Linked DNA regions of Homo sapiens. The main gene of each other region encodes a partner of the protein of the gene in region 2 in a complex. Each region holds a gene or a part of one and is shown on either strand. Other genes may lie near its edges.

Evidence for each region. The genes of interacting proteins can lie anywhere in the genome.
Region 1: INTS7 (region 2) and INTS9 share a complex: the UniProt entries of both Homo sapiens proteins name them as parts of the integrator complex.

What each region holds. Positions count from the first base shown.
Region 1 is NC_000008.11:28,886,964-28,894,439, forward strand, and holds the start of INTS9 (integrator complex subunit 9), read right to left. Parts: upstream 3,007-7,476; 5' UTR 2,920-3,006; coding exon 2,911-2,919; exon of another isoform or gene 2,879-2,910; intron 1-2,878. UniProt on the Homo sapiens protein: Component of the integrator complex, a multiprotein complex that terminates RNA polymerase II (Pol II) transcription in the promoter-proximal region of genes.
Region 2 is NC_000001.11:212,004,548-212,011,570, reverse strand, and holds part of INTS7 (integrator complex subunit 7), read left to right. Parts: intron 1-149; coding exon 150-196; intron 197-4,121; coding exon 4,122-4,321; intron 4,322-4,809; coding exon 4,810-4,932; intron 4,933-7,023. UniProt on the Homo sapiens protein: Component of the integrator complex, a multiprotein complex that terminates RNA polymerase II (Pol II) transcription in the promoter-proximal region of genes.

The DNA.
Region 1 (7,476 bases), on a different chromosome or scaffold from region 2:
CTTTTCTCAAGGGTATCCATAGACCTTGATAAACCTTCAGAAATTATTTACCAATTATTTACACAGAATCTACATGGGGGAGGACAGACACACGCCAATAATTACAAGTGCTACAAATAGGAAGTATGCCATCAAATATATAACAGGGGTACTTAATTCAACGAGGCCCTGAAGAAGTGTTATTTAGACAGAGATCTGAAATATATGAAGAAATTAGCCAGGCAAAAAAGAGTGAGGCAGGCAATGGAACATATTCAACCAAGTTAAGTGTAGGAGGTTATCCTAAGGGCAAAGGAAGATACTGAGAGGGTTTCATGGAACTCTGCAATTAAAACAACTTCCGGATGCAGAGGAAAGAATGAATTTGAGAGGGTTAAGACTGAATGCAGAGAGACCAGATAAGGGGTCTTGTTGAATTCCGATTACAAAGACAGTATTCTAGTTGGACTGGAGAGAAATAGAACCTATTTAAGAAAGCTGCATTTAGGAAGCAGAATCAATAAGAGGTGGTCATAGATTGTGTGTGGGAAGGGTACTCTGGAAAGTGAATCTCAAAAATGAGAAAATGCTAAACAAAATGTGTTTTTGTTTCATAATTATAAATTTAAAACACAGCCTATTACATATTTCTGAAGCAGTACACAAAATTAAAACTTTTAGGCCATGGGAGGACTTATTCCAACCATTTGGGAGGCATGACACACCCATCTAACTTACTGAGCAACAATGCTTTTGGTATGTTGATGGGAATTCTCAATTACATTTATCTATCAACTACCAAATAAATTTTAGTATGTAATACATAGTTGCAAAGTAAAGAGGGAGTATGAGTATCAATAGAATACTTCCTTTTCCTCTGAGACATCTTTGGTTCTTAATGGAAAAAATAATTTTCCACTTTTTTACAATCCCCGGTTTCATATTTCTAAATAAATTAAGCAGGAGGATTTTATGAGCAAACTAAAATATATGTAAAGTAAACCCTGGCTTTTTGATACCCTCACTAATGAGTTGTTATGGGAAAAACTATTTCACACTTCCCTGCCTTCTTAAACTGAACACATTAAATATAATTTGCTCTTTATTGAGAACACAGGGTCCATGCTTTAGCCAATAAGGTACCAAGCTCTTATGCTCCTATAAGCTGACCTCTTTCATGGAAGGCCCTGGCTTACTTATCCTTATCAGTTCAAGAGTCACGTTTCCAGGAAGCTGTCCCCTGACCTCCCCAATCCTCTGTTCTCTGAATTCCCAAAACCCTGAACACGCCTCTATTTCACCATGAACACAGTGAATTATAATTTCGGACCAGGCATGGTGGCTCATGCCTGTAATTCCAGCACTTTGGAAGGTTGAGGTGGGCAGATACCTTGAACCCAGGAGTTTGAGACCAGCCTGGGCAACATGGTTAAACCCCATTTCTACAAAAAAAATAAGCAGGGTGCAGTGGTGCGCGCCTGTATTCCCAGCTATATGGGGAGACTGACGCGGCGAGAGGATCGCTTGAGTCCGAAAGGTGGAGGTAGCAGCGAGCTGAGAACGCGCCACTGCACTTCAGTCTGGGCCCCACAAAGCCAGACCCTGTCTCTAAATAAATAAATAATAACTTTGGTTTACTTTTCTATCTTCTTCTTAGGTTGCATGCTTCTGTAGGGCAACGGCTATGACTTTTAATTCTGCATTATTAAATGTGTAACACACTGACCCAGGGGTAAGTTGCTATTCTCAAGGTTTAGTGACCCGCATCCTTCCCCTTATATAAACAGATTTATACGGGGACAATTTCGGAATTGAATCCACTTTTAATACTTTCTCTGACTTCGCAGAAAACAGCTGGCTTTGCAGAATATATGCCTGTAGCACAATGATTATCAAGATGAGGGTAGGTGTGTTGTGTGGTTTGGCAAAGCATGTTCAGATAATTATATAAATGGTAAAAAATAAACTTTTTTTTTTTTTGAGACAGAGTCTCGCGCTGTTGCAAGGCTGGAGTGCAGTGGCGCGATCTTGGCTTACTGCAACCTCTGCCTCCCGGGTTCAAGCGATTCTCCTGCCTCAAGTAAAGCTTGACAATAACTTGGCTGCACAAATATGGGTTTTAAAAGGTTGAGAAACAGTGTTTCACACCTGCCTTTCTACACTATGTTATTAACTAATTGAATCGAGTTGGAATAAACTAGTTAGACTTGTGTGCACAATGAGTCAAATGGCTCAAATCAAAGGTCTGAGGAGCCTCCATGAACCAGGTGCTTGAGCTGTGTGATGTTAAGACTTCAGGTATACCGAGCACGCTTCATTCAGCCTTGGCTCATGAAGTCCCTACAGTCTTAGAATGGAATACCATATAACACTTCTCTGCCCATCTAAATCCCATGCAGGGTTTAAGACTCAACTTCTCCACACTCTGACCTCGTCCTGAATTCCAAGGGCAGTGAGGAGTCTATATAACAGGATATTTAATAAGTGATTACGTTCTGCTGGATGTTTTTTACTGTCTGCTTAAATCTAGCCAGTCTCAACAACAGTAGGGAGACAGGATACTCAAGCGCCAATCGAATGGAAACGGATTGTTAACAGCCTATTATAACCCTCACGTGGGAACCAGGACGTCCAAACCTGGTTAACAGAGCCCACAGAGTTCATGGGCGAAGGACTGTGACAGTCAACCTCTTGTCTGAACAAAAAGACCCACTAACGAGTGAAAAAAGACCTCCTGGGAGGGATGGGGTGGGGGAGAGGGAATTCAAACCTTCTCAACAACAAAAAGCAGCTTTCCTTAGCCCACTCCACTTTCCAGCTCAATAATTGCTACCCCTCCCGTGCGACGATTCCCTGCCCAACGTAGGAAAAAAAGAGGTCCAAAAGGTTATAGCATCACCTTTGCCCTCTGACCTAGGAGCGAAGACTCACCAGTTTCATAATGGACTTTTGGTGGTTCAATAGCAGTCACTGAACTCCTCAAACCCAGGAAGCGTCTTCCGGTGCAATCTCCGCCACCTGCCAGCCGAGAGCATCGCGGGACTTGCAGTCTTTCATCCTCACGTCCCTTCCAGGGGAATAATGGGAAATGTAGTCTCCCCTCCAGGCATCATGGGAACTGTGGTCGCCTTTCCTTTTCCTCCCTTTCCTCTCCGAACGCCTCCTTCCGTCAGCTCAAATTCATCCCAGCCGCCAATGCATCCTCCCTCTCCACCCCAGCATGATATCATGTCTTCCTTACGGGCCTGGGGCCCATGGTGTTCTGGGATGTGTAGTCCCGACGGCTCCGACTCCCCTTTCCCTCCTCCCAAAGGGAAGGCGGATGGGCACGGGGCTTGCCGGAAGTTGTAGTTCCCTTGGCCCTCTAGGCGCCGGGCTCCGCAATTTTTCTCAGGGGAGGCAGGAACTACAACTCCCAGGGACGCCCGGCGGCAGCAGGTGGGAGAGGGGCTGTTGATATCAATATGGCGGTTGTCAGCCAGACAAAGACAGTCAGTCTGATGTGATTGAGACAAGGGAGGTTTTTCAGGGGGAGACTGGGAGATAGGGGCCTCCCCTCCCCCTTCTCCTCTTCCTGCGCCGGCCTCAACCCCTCCCCAGTCCCCTCCCGACGGGCGCCCCACGCGGAAGACACCCCTCCCCCTCCCGCCTTCCCTCCTCCCTATCTCAGCCCTTCGTACTGGGACGTTGGGGAGGGGGCTGTGCCGGGCGGAGAGAACTCAGCGAGGATTCTGAGGTGAGTCGAGCGGTTTTGAAGCCGGACTACCTCAAGTCTCTTTCCTCACTTCTTTCTCTTCACTTAAAACAATTTTTTTGGAGGGGTTTTGGGGAGGAAGTGAGCGGACGCTGGGGATGGGTCTCGTAAGCGGCCGGATTGAGAGGAGGGAGGAAGCAGGGGGCTTCCGAGTGGGTGACCCAGACGCGGGCTGTGGGGTGGGGCAGTTCGTGGGGTCCGGTCCTGGAAAGGCGTCGACTGCCCCCCAACTCTTCTGGTTTCCTCTACGATGAGCGGAAGGTTTGAATCCTGGAGGTGGGGTCTCCGGTGTGGAGTTCTGGAAACTGTGAGGTGATTTGCAGGTGTGTTGGTTTGTTTGGGGTGTGTAAGTGTGTTTAAACTGTGTGACGTGTACTTGTGTGCTCTGCTCGTCTTGGAGCGGTGTCTGTAGATGGGAAGTTAGACAGCGCGAGTCCTCGCTCGCTCTGGGCCTGGGCTGAGGGGCGGGCGTGAGGTCCTGGTGCTGGGCGTTTGGGCTGGCGACGTGGTGCGAGGCGGCCGGGCTCAACAACTCGCTTGTGTCCCGTCGCCCGCTCACACTCTGCCACTCGCCTCCGCCCCCTCCCCTGGACGAATCTCCACCCCAAACTCCAGCCACGAGAACTGTAGAGATGGTGTGATGTGGAGATGGATTTTTTGCATCCTCAAGTCGGTAGATAGGTGGGAAAGGAAAAGTGTTTCTTAATATTTTATTCCGGAACCGTGTTTTGGTTACACTATTGGGGCTACTTTGAAAGGCGTCCTCCACCCACCTTCACCCCGAAACAGTAGGTAGAGGTATCTTGTCTTCGTGTGAATTAGATGAATAATTGCTGAAGATTCGGGGGGCCTGGGGTGGGGGTCGGGAGTGCTGGATTGTGTACGCGTCTGTGTGTGTCTACTAAGGAGACGGAATGTCTGTTATGTATCTGGAGATAGGGCGACTTATTTTCGTAGCAGGAGGAACTGTTGGAAATTATTTGCGGGAGAGGGGGTGCGCCGAAAGGCGCTGCTTGTATTTTTCTTCTACTCCACCCTGTTCTGTCTTGCATTTGCCTGAAAGCTGGTGGAATGGAACAGTGAAGAAGCATTGGGTGAGTAAAGGGAAGAATGCAGTTGGCATTAAAGATAACACTATGTAAAGTTGAATGGTATAAAGTGATTACTGTTTTTATTTACGCTGAAGCTTAAAAAAAATCACCCATGTATCATATAAGGTAGAGTGATGTGACTAGCTCATTTCTCTGGTATCCTGCAGGTACAGAAACCTCTGGCTTCCCTCTTCCTTCCTTCCTATCCTCCCTCCTTCCTTCCTTCCTTAAGTCCTTCCTTTCTTTCTTGGCTTCGTACAACATTTCTCTTTCTGTTGGACATAATACCGCCTGTGTCTTTTTATTTAGTTTGTGCTAATATGGTTGTGCTTTTTGTGGTTTTACCATAAAATGCATCGTTAAATGCATTTATTATTTTGCATTTATGCTGCAGGTAATTATCACATCAGGATTGCAGTGCTTTGCATTAAACTTATTTTAAAATTGTGCAATTAAGTTGCTTGATCTAGCTGAATTATGTTTCTAAGTCAAAGTTGGGAAATTTGAATTCTAAATTTTTTTTCAAATTTCAATTAGAGTTAAAAAGGAAAGGATTGCAACATCTCTTATTTCTCACAGTTTTTAATATTTAATAACACACTAGGAGAATTTAAGGTCATATTTTGTACTTCCTTATTAAGTTCTTCAATAATCCTTATGTGACAATTTTTTTAGTGTAACGGATTTTTAAAGTAAAGAAATTGGCATAATTTCTATTTCGACTGTTGAGAATTGAATATATTCCCCAAACTTATCAATTCTTGAATCTGCCACCTATCATCAGTAAGGGACCTTTAGATTCTATGATAACTGAAAACCACATTGATAGAGTGTGTAATTTTATGATATGTCCTCTAACCATTGATTTAAAATTTTTGCTGTTGGTCATTCACACAGATAAGGGGGACTGAAAGAGTGAGGTAGCATGTATATTTCAATTGACCTGAATAGAAAAAAAAATGTGATTTCTAAATCTCAGATGTAGAATATACAATATGTTGATTCAAAACTAAGCCATTAGTTTGTGATAGACCAGGATTTTCAGAATCATTTGTTTTAAGCTTGTATCTTAACTTGAAACACTACTTTGCAAAAACCAGAGAAAAATCCTACGTAACTACTTAACGGAGTGTTTTGTTTTATTTTTCTGAAGCATATTATAATAGTCATGGAGTTTTTTAAAAAATGTTTAATAATTATTTTAGAAGTAAAAAACCAACATGTTTGTTAATATTTTAAATTGGAAAAACACGAGTGTTTTCTCTTCCATCTACCCTTACCTCAAAATTTCTTTTTGTTTTGTCTATAGAAGTGCAAAGTTATTTACTTGAAAAAGCATTCATTAAACTTTTTCTGGCTACTAGTGGGATCAAAATCATTACATGTAAACCAAATATATTCCCAGCATTTGTTGGGGGTGATTCTGTTGCATTTTAAGTACTGGGCATTAAAATGATGTAAAGCCTTTACTGCAGGTTAAAGCATAAAACATTCTCAGCATGTGAGAGTCATATGGTTTACAAATAAAGTAGAAAACCAGGGCATGGGTGCTTGTCCAGCTTACAATTTCATCCCGTAACTGTGAAAGACACATTTATTTTAATGTGATTGCTTCTAAAGATGTTGCCTGTATTATGGGAAGTTGAAAATCTAAGCTGCTTTTAACTAATCTGTTGCTAGTTTAGTTTACTGCATTTAGTGAACACTATGTATGGTCACAAATACGCATCAAGGAAAGGAGCCTTTAGCTGGAAGTTGAATGCCTTTAGTGAGGCTTCGTTTTCACTGCTGTACAAACAGATTTCAGTCTTCTAGCCCAAATCCTCAGTTAAAACATCGCTAATAGAAACTTAATAGCTCAGTGTTCCTAAGTTACAAAATATGTGGCAACAAATCTGTCATTGTTACATCATTTAAAAAATAGCAACCAGCTTATGGCAATTTTTGTGGCAAGTGTTGATTGGAATTCTATTGCTTGTTTCATAGATATTGAATACATTGGGAATATTTAGGCTTAATTTGTGTATTTTGAGTCTCCTGTACACTGTATTCAGCACATCCCACATTTAGGGCTCCCGTGCAATTTAGTTCTGTTCATTTCATTGTAGCTCTTGCTTCTCTTATTTTTGTATACAGCTCTTTAAACCTGAATTATTTCTCTTGGGAATCAGGTATTTATGTAGAATGTTGTCATAAGTGAAAGTTGGCATACCACTCAACTTTTTAAATACATGAACATTTATAGATAAACCGAATAGTGCTCATTGAAAATGTGTTGGTTTTGTTTGTTTTGTGAACCAGCTTTATTTAGTTCTTTGGCTTCTGGAATTAATTTTGTAGCTCACTTTGCTATTCTTTGGCTAGATTTTTCTGTTAACAGTTGGCTTTTACTTCCCACTGTAGTAGAACTGTAATTTATTAAAGCATTGTTGTGAGTGAAAAGCATGGCTTGTCTAGAGTGCCATATATGTACACCCACAATACACTCATACATAAAATACTTTTATGTTTATTTATTTATTTATGAAATTGGTGTATATCTATCAGACATGCCTCCCATAAGAAAGAATCTGAGCCACAAATAGCAGAAGACCTTGAACTTTGACTGAAGCTAGAAACCAAAGAGTAACCAGCACATGTTGTCCACATTAT
Region 2 (7,023 bases):
CCCCTAACCCGAGCACCTGACCTTGGAATATTAGTTGCAGTTTGGAATATTGTATTTCTTCTGCGCTAATTGTGTTTTATTTCTTTTAAGTCCTTAGAAAATATAAGCAAATGTAAGTTTTTTCTGTTCTCTGTTCTCTTTTTCCAAAGGGATTTTGCTGTAGGAATCTGTAACAAAATCAGTGAAATGATTCAAGGTATGTATTCTTCATTTAGTATTATGAAGTGACTTAATTAGATTTATAATAGTTGCTAACACTAATTAAGTACTTATTATTTGCTAGTCACCATACATTCAAATAATATTTATTAAGTATCTTCTATTTGCCCAAACTGTTCTAAATGCTGAGGATACAGGAATGAGCAAAACAAAGTCCTTACCCCCATCTAACCTACACTCTAGTCAGGGGTGGGGTGTGTGGGGATAGACAAATGTGCCTATGACATTTCTGGTGCTATGGTGAAAAAGTGAGAGAAGAAGGATAGAGAGTCTCAAAAGTAAGTCGTTGGTGGGTTGAGAGAAGGGACTTATCTATTTTATATATATTGATCAGAGAAGGGACTTTTTTGTATATATTGATCAGAGACAGTCTCTGATGAGGTGATACTTGAGTGAGACATGAAGGAGAGAAAGGAGTGAGCCATGCAGATATAGTCTTGCATTGCTTAACAATGGGGATCCTGTGTGAGAAATGGGTCCTTAGGCAGTTTTGTTGTTTGAACTTCATAGAGTGTACTTAAATAAACCTAAATGGTATAGCCAACTGTACACTTAGGCTGTATGGTATAGCCTATTGTTCCTAGGCTCTAAGCCTATACAACATGTAACTGTGCTGAATACCCATAGGCAATTGTAACAAAATGATTTGTATATCTGAGGTAGAAAAGGTAATATATTGCACTGTGGTGTTACAATGACTACAGGGTCTATGAAGTTACTAGGAATTTTTCAGCTCCATTATAATCGTATGGGACCACCGTCTGTCATGTGGTCCATCATTCACCAAAGCATACTTATGGGGGGCATGATTAGTGTAGGGAAGACTGCTCTGTGTGAGAGAGGCTAATATTATTAGGAGCTCTGGAACTCTCTGCTAATGTCCCTCCAGTGTCTTCCAGTTGCATTTAGAATCAAATCCAGATTCCTTACCATAGACTACAAAGCCCTGGTTTTCCAGTCTCTTATACCATAAGTCATGTGTATTAACCCTATTTATCCTTACAACAGTCATTATGGGAGCCCAAGAGCTCCCATAGGGTTAATACACGTGTCATACCCCTATTTATCCTAGCAGTCATAAAAGGGAGCTCTTGGGCTACAGCATTGCCTGACTCTAGAGAACACCACTTTGTTTATATTCTTATAAAGAGCATTCCTTTGAATTGTGCAATGTGGCAGCCTTGGATAGGTAATACCATTATGTTCGTTTTACAGGAAAGGAAATAGAGCCACACTAAAGCTGAATGATTGGTTCACAGTAAAAAAGCTGATAACTTACAGTTTGGCTTTGAGGCCGATGCTTTTAACCACTTATGCTACTGTGCCCTTCTAAGGCATGAATTGCTTAGTGTAGTTATATTTTGCACGCATTTAAATTGTCCTTCAAATTAAAATTAAAGAGAACTTGCTCACTTGCATAAATAATAAAAATCACTTAAAGACCAAGATACAGTGAATGAGCTTTGTTGTGTTCCCCTTTATTCCTTTGTGTTTTTTCTTCCACCATTAGCAAAAGGGCTTTCCTGCAGAAAAGTATCCTTATGACATTAGAAGGAAGCATCACTTATTCATTGAGCAGATTTTATCAGTGCCTGCTGCATCAGACAAGATCTCAGCAGGAAACAGGTGGCACATTTGAATTAAGATAACTCAAGGAAGGTGTAATAAAGGAACCATTCACAAAGGCATGGTCAGGGTGTACTATAGGGGATAATGTAGTTCTTGAACCCGTAATAGCTTTTACCATACCTCTAAGGGTACAGGTTAAAGAGAGGTTACTAGAAAATTGGTATCATGTCAGGAGGACCACTTTGAGAAGCTAACCTCCAGGAGCATGATGTGACCCTGCAGTGAGAGAACCAGGGAATAAATACTCTGACCTCATTCTTCTCTGCAACTCCTGCTGGGCTCTCCATTGGTTAAACCCAAACAAAGGGTAGATAGCAAGGGAGTTGATGAAAGCTATACAGGTGAGCCTTCTAGGATGCTGGAGTATTCTGTGTATCTGATGACAGTTATATGAGAATATACATATGTAGAAATACATTAATCTGTACACTTAAGATTCATTACCTTATTGTTCCTTAAATTTTATCTTAAAAAAATCTGAAAGAACAGGAATTAGCAGGAGAGAGAGGCAGAGGAAAACATAGGAGTGTGGGTGGAGGAAAATTGGAACCTAAGATATGGAAATGAAAGAGGAGTTTTAGGAACAGAATCCTGACATTTGGTTTTAAGCCACTTTTGTTTCTGCCAAGTAAAATCTCCGAGCCTCCCTAAATCTTTAGTAAAGATGCCTGTAAACACAAAGATCCCTCTGAGTACTGGGTTGAGAATAAACTTGCAGTGGAGGAAAGAGGGGGATATAAGAGTGGAGTCTGCCATGGGGAAAGGCCTAAGCAGGGAGAATACTTAGGAGACTTGCAATAATTTAGTCAAGAGATGGTAGTGGAAATGGATCGGCATGGTAACAACGGAGGTAGAAAGAGTCAGTTTGGGTTTTATTTTGAAGTTAGAACCAATAAGATTTGCTAATACATTTGGAAATGGGATGTGATAGAATCCTTTCACTAATAAGAAAGACTCCAGGGTCTAAGAAGCTATAATGATGTGATTTACTGAGACAGGAATATTTTTGGAGGGGCAGTTTCAAGGTTAAGATCAGTTCTCTTTGAGCCTTATTAATACAAAATGCTTCTGAGACCTCCTAGTGCAGATGACCAGAAGATAATGAGATACATGCGTCTGACGTCGGGGCAGGAGGACGGATGGGTGGCAGCCTTTCACATTTAGCCGATAATGGAAACCATGGGATTATATCAGCTCACTCAGGGAAAACACATAGAATGAGAAGAGAATTTATTACCAACCTATGGGAATATCAGAAATTAAAGCGTAGACAGACAAGGAGACTACAAAGGAGATTAAGAAGGAACAGCCAGAGAAAGAGGTCAGAAAACAGTAAAAGTGGAAGAGCCAAAGCCATTAGGAGTGAGTTTCAAAGATAGAATGGTCAGCAGTGTCAAGTGCATTCAGAACCTTAAGGAACAAAGTAATAACATGAGCATGATGTGACCCTGCAGAGAGGAAAGCAGGGAATACTCTGATCTCATTCTTTTCCCTCTGGCAAACCCAAGTAGAGGCCATCTAGCAAGGGAGTTTATTGACGTAGGCAACTGTTGGACGTTGAAATGCTGTCTTACGTTCATACCCACAATTATTTCACCATGGAAAAGCCAGCAATACGCAGAGTATAATTAGCTTGTGGCATGTATGTGGTACATTACGACTGAGAAATTTGTGTTCACCATGACCACAAAGCCATGCCATAGAGAAAAGATTTGTTGGTTTCGCTCCACTGTTGACAGGAAAACGTGGATTAGGGTTAGTCTTCATGGATCCAGTCGTGTATGCAATAAAGAAAGGCATTTACTACACAAAGTTCAGAGGACTTCGAAACCATTCTACACACAGTTTATTCACATCCTGATTATGATTTAGTTGTTGAAGGAAATAATTAAAATCATAAGTATAATCAGACTGTAGCCATCAAGTGTGTGTGTTTGTGTATATATATGTATATGTGTATGTATAATTTTTTTACTATGACAATGAGAGGAAATAGGCAGCAAATATGACTTTGCTTTCTACTGTGCTTTTTAAAGGCAGTTTTTATTATCAGCATGTAGTTTTATAATCATTGAAAAGTTAATGTCAAGATAAATACTTAGGAAAAAATATTGAATTTATCAATTGGTTCTAGTATAATCTTTAATGTTATAAATATATTAGTATACTGTGTTTTTCAAGTGCAATTTTGCTAAATGAGTCACAGCTTTTAAATCTGGAATATTATTAAGGATGGTGATCACAAATACCTTGAGAATTATTTTTGTGTCTAGGTTTAGCGACACCAGTAGACTTGAAGCTAAAATTGATACCCATTCTACAGCACATGCACCATGATGCAATCTTGGCTTCCAGTGCTCGTCAGCTTTTACAACAGCTGGTCACATCCTATCCGTCCACCAAAATGGTGATTGTGTCTTTGCACACTTTCACTCTGCTTGCAGCGTCATCTTTGGTTGATACACCTAAGCAGGTAATTTCAATTTTCTTTAAACTGCCTATCTTTGGTAAACTTACATATTAAATATATGATTAGAAATAAGAAAGTGGCCCACAAGTCTTGAGGACATTAAGGTTCTTTTCTCTAATAAAGGTCAGATTAATTTGCTTTTGCTTGCTTTTTTATTCTCTCTGTTCACAGTACTGATTGTTGGGAGCCCTTGAGGAAAATGAGATGTTATGGAGTACATGGCTGGGTGTGAAGTTGGCCGTATAAAAAAAAAAAAAGAAAGGATTGAGTATCTGTAAAATGCCAGGGCCTGTGCTAAAACTTTAAAGTTAAATGGTAGTATTTTACAAACATGGAGAAAGAGGCCCAAATGTGGGCACATAGCTAGTGAGTGACAGGGCTCTGATTTGAAGTGAGTCCTGTCCCTTTATAAGTTTCACTAAACTACACTGCATTTCTAATGATCATTTCAGTTACAGTATTGTTTATGGAGTGACTTATTTCCTTTATAGATTCAGCTTCTGTTGCAGTATTTGAAGAATGATCCCAGGAAGGCAGTAAAGAGACTTGCTATTCAAGATCTGAAATTACTTGCTAATAAAACACCACATACTTGGAGTAGGGAGAATATTCAGGTATGTAGAACTTGTAACATTTTATATAGAAAAAATAATATAACATTATAATATAGTAAAATGTTTTGCATTTTTATATTGTCTTTGTCATCTTCTAAGTGGTTGAATATGAAAAACTTCTAAAAGCATTGTTGATGTTTGTGGCAGTTATTTTATAAGTGGCACAATAAATACATAAAACTTCTATACTTCAATGTTTGTTTTAGTCAGTGAAACTTGCCACTCAGTTGCTTGTTCATTCTCCCATAGTGGCACTAAGGCTAATTGAGAAGCCCAATTACATTGGTTTGGTTTTTTTATTCTTGTATTTTTCAGTCAATTTGGGGAGAAAAATTTAGGGGCTGAATGTTATCTGTAATGGAGGTAGGGCTGGATGGGCAACTTGGGAAATATATTTCTCTCTTCCTGGAGAGCTGAAGACATTCCTAAGTCTTCTTTTGTAAACAGAAGAGCAGATCTCACTCTTTAGACTTTTAATGTGCATCTTTGACACCATCTCTTACCATCTGTTAGGTTAAATTAATATTTTATGTTTATTTTTTTCTCAAAATAGAACCCTGTTTGTTTACCCATTACCGATAGAAATAACACCATTTTGCAAATAATGCTATTTAAAATGGAACGGTAGTTTTTATCTCTCAGCTTCATCATGACTCCAGTGGATTAAAAATCTTTGAATTTCAGATTATTAAAACTAAACTGCTGTGTTTGTTTTTCTGTTTGTTTGTTTGTTGTTTTCTAAACATCTTTTAATTTACTATATTATGATTTGATAGTCACAGATATCCCAAGATAAGGGCAGTTGTTAAATCTGCATTTAATAGATAAGCAGTTAGGGTTCAGAGAGACTTAATATGCTTAAGAGAGCATCTTAAGAGAAGTAAATTAAGAATTTAATTAAGAGAGCTTCTGTCCTCTGATCCCTAGTCTTATTGCTTTTTCTACTAAATAATGCTATCTTTCCAAGAAGAGAATGTGCCCAGCCACTTTAGTCATTTTAGAGAATTTGTACAAAGAACCAAACCCAGTTATTTAGAAAGATGAGTGAGAAGCACAGTATTATTCCTTCTCATTTTTTTCTTATTGTGAGATAGATCATACATACAGAAAAGTATGTAAAATATATAAATAGTTTAAATACCTTTAAGTGAGAAAAGTATGTAAAATGTATAAATATTTTAAATACTTTTAAGTGAAAACCCATGCAACTACCATCCAGCTAGAAATAGAACATTACAGGATCACAGAACCCTGCCTCCTTCCCTTGCGTGGTCCTTCCTGGTTGAAACTTTACACCTTCCAAAAGCAAACCACCATTTTGACTTTCATGATAATAATTTCTTTGCTCTTCTTTTACCTTCTTCACATGTCTTCCTAAAGAATACTGTTTAGCTTTGTTTTTGTTTCTTTTGCTCAGCATTACACTGGTGAGACTCATCCATGTCTTTCCCCTTTAATTGTAATGTACTATCCCATTGTATGAATGTATCACAGTTTATTTGCTCTCGATGGGTTATTTCCGCATGGGCCTATTGCAAACAGTGCAGAACATTCTTCTGTTTGTCTCCCAGTTCACACACGCAAATTTCTTTAGAGTGTATACCTGGGAATGAAATTTCTGACTTACAGAAAATGCGTATCTTCAGTTTTAACAGATGATGTCAAACTGTTTTCCAAAGTCAATGAACCAGTTTACATTCCTGCTGTGTATGAGGGCGTCCATTAATCACATCCGTACCAACACATAGAATTATCAGACTTACGTTTTTTACCAGTTTAGAAGTTGTACTTTTTATGTGTAGCTCCTTGATTATTAAAGAAATTGAACACCTTTTTAATATGTTTATTGACCATTTGGATTTTCTCTTATGACATGGCTATTCAGGTCTCTTGCCTATTTTTCTGTTGATTCATAGTTATTTTTTATATATTTGGAATACTCATACTTTGTTAGTCCTTGACAATTCTATATAAATTTCAGAATCAGCTTGTCAAATTTAACAGTTTGATTGGGATTACACTGAATATAAAGATTAGTTTGTAAGAAATTGGTAACTTTATAATATTGTCTTCCAGTGCATGAACATGTTA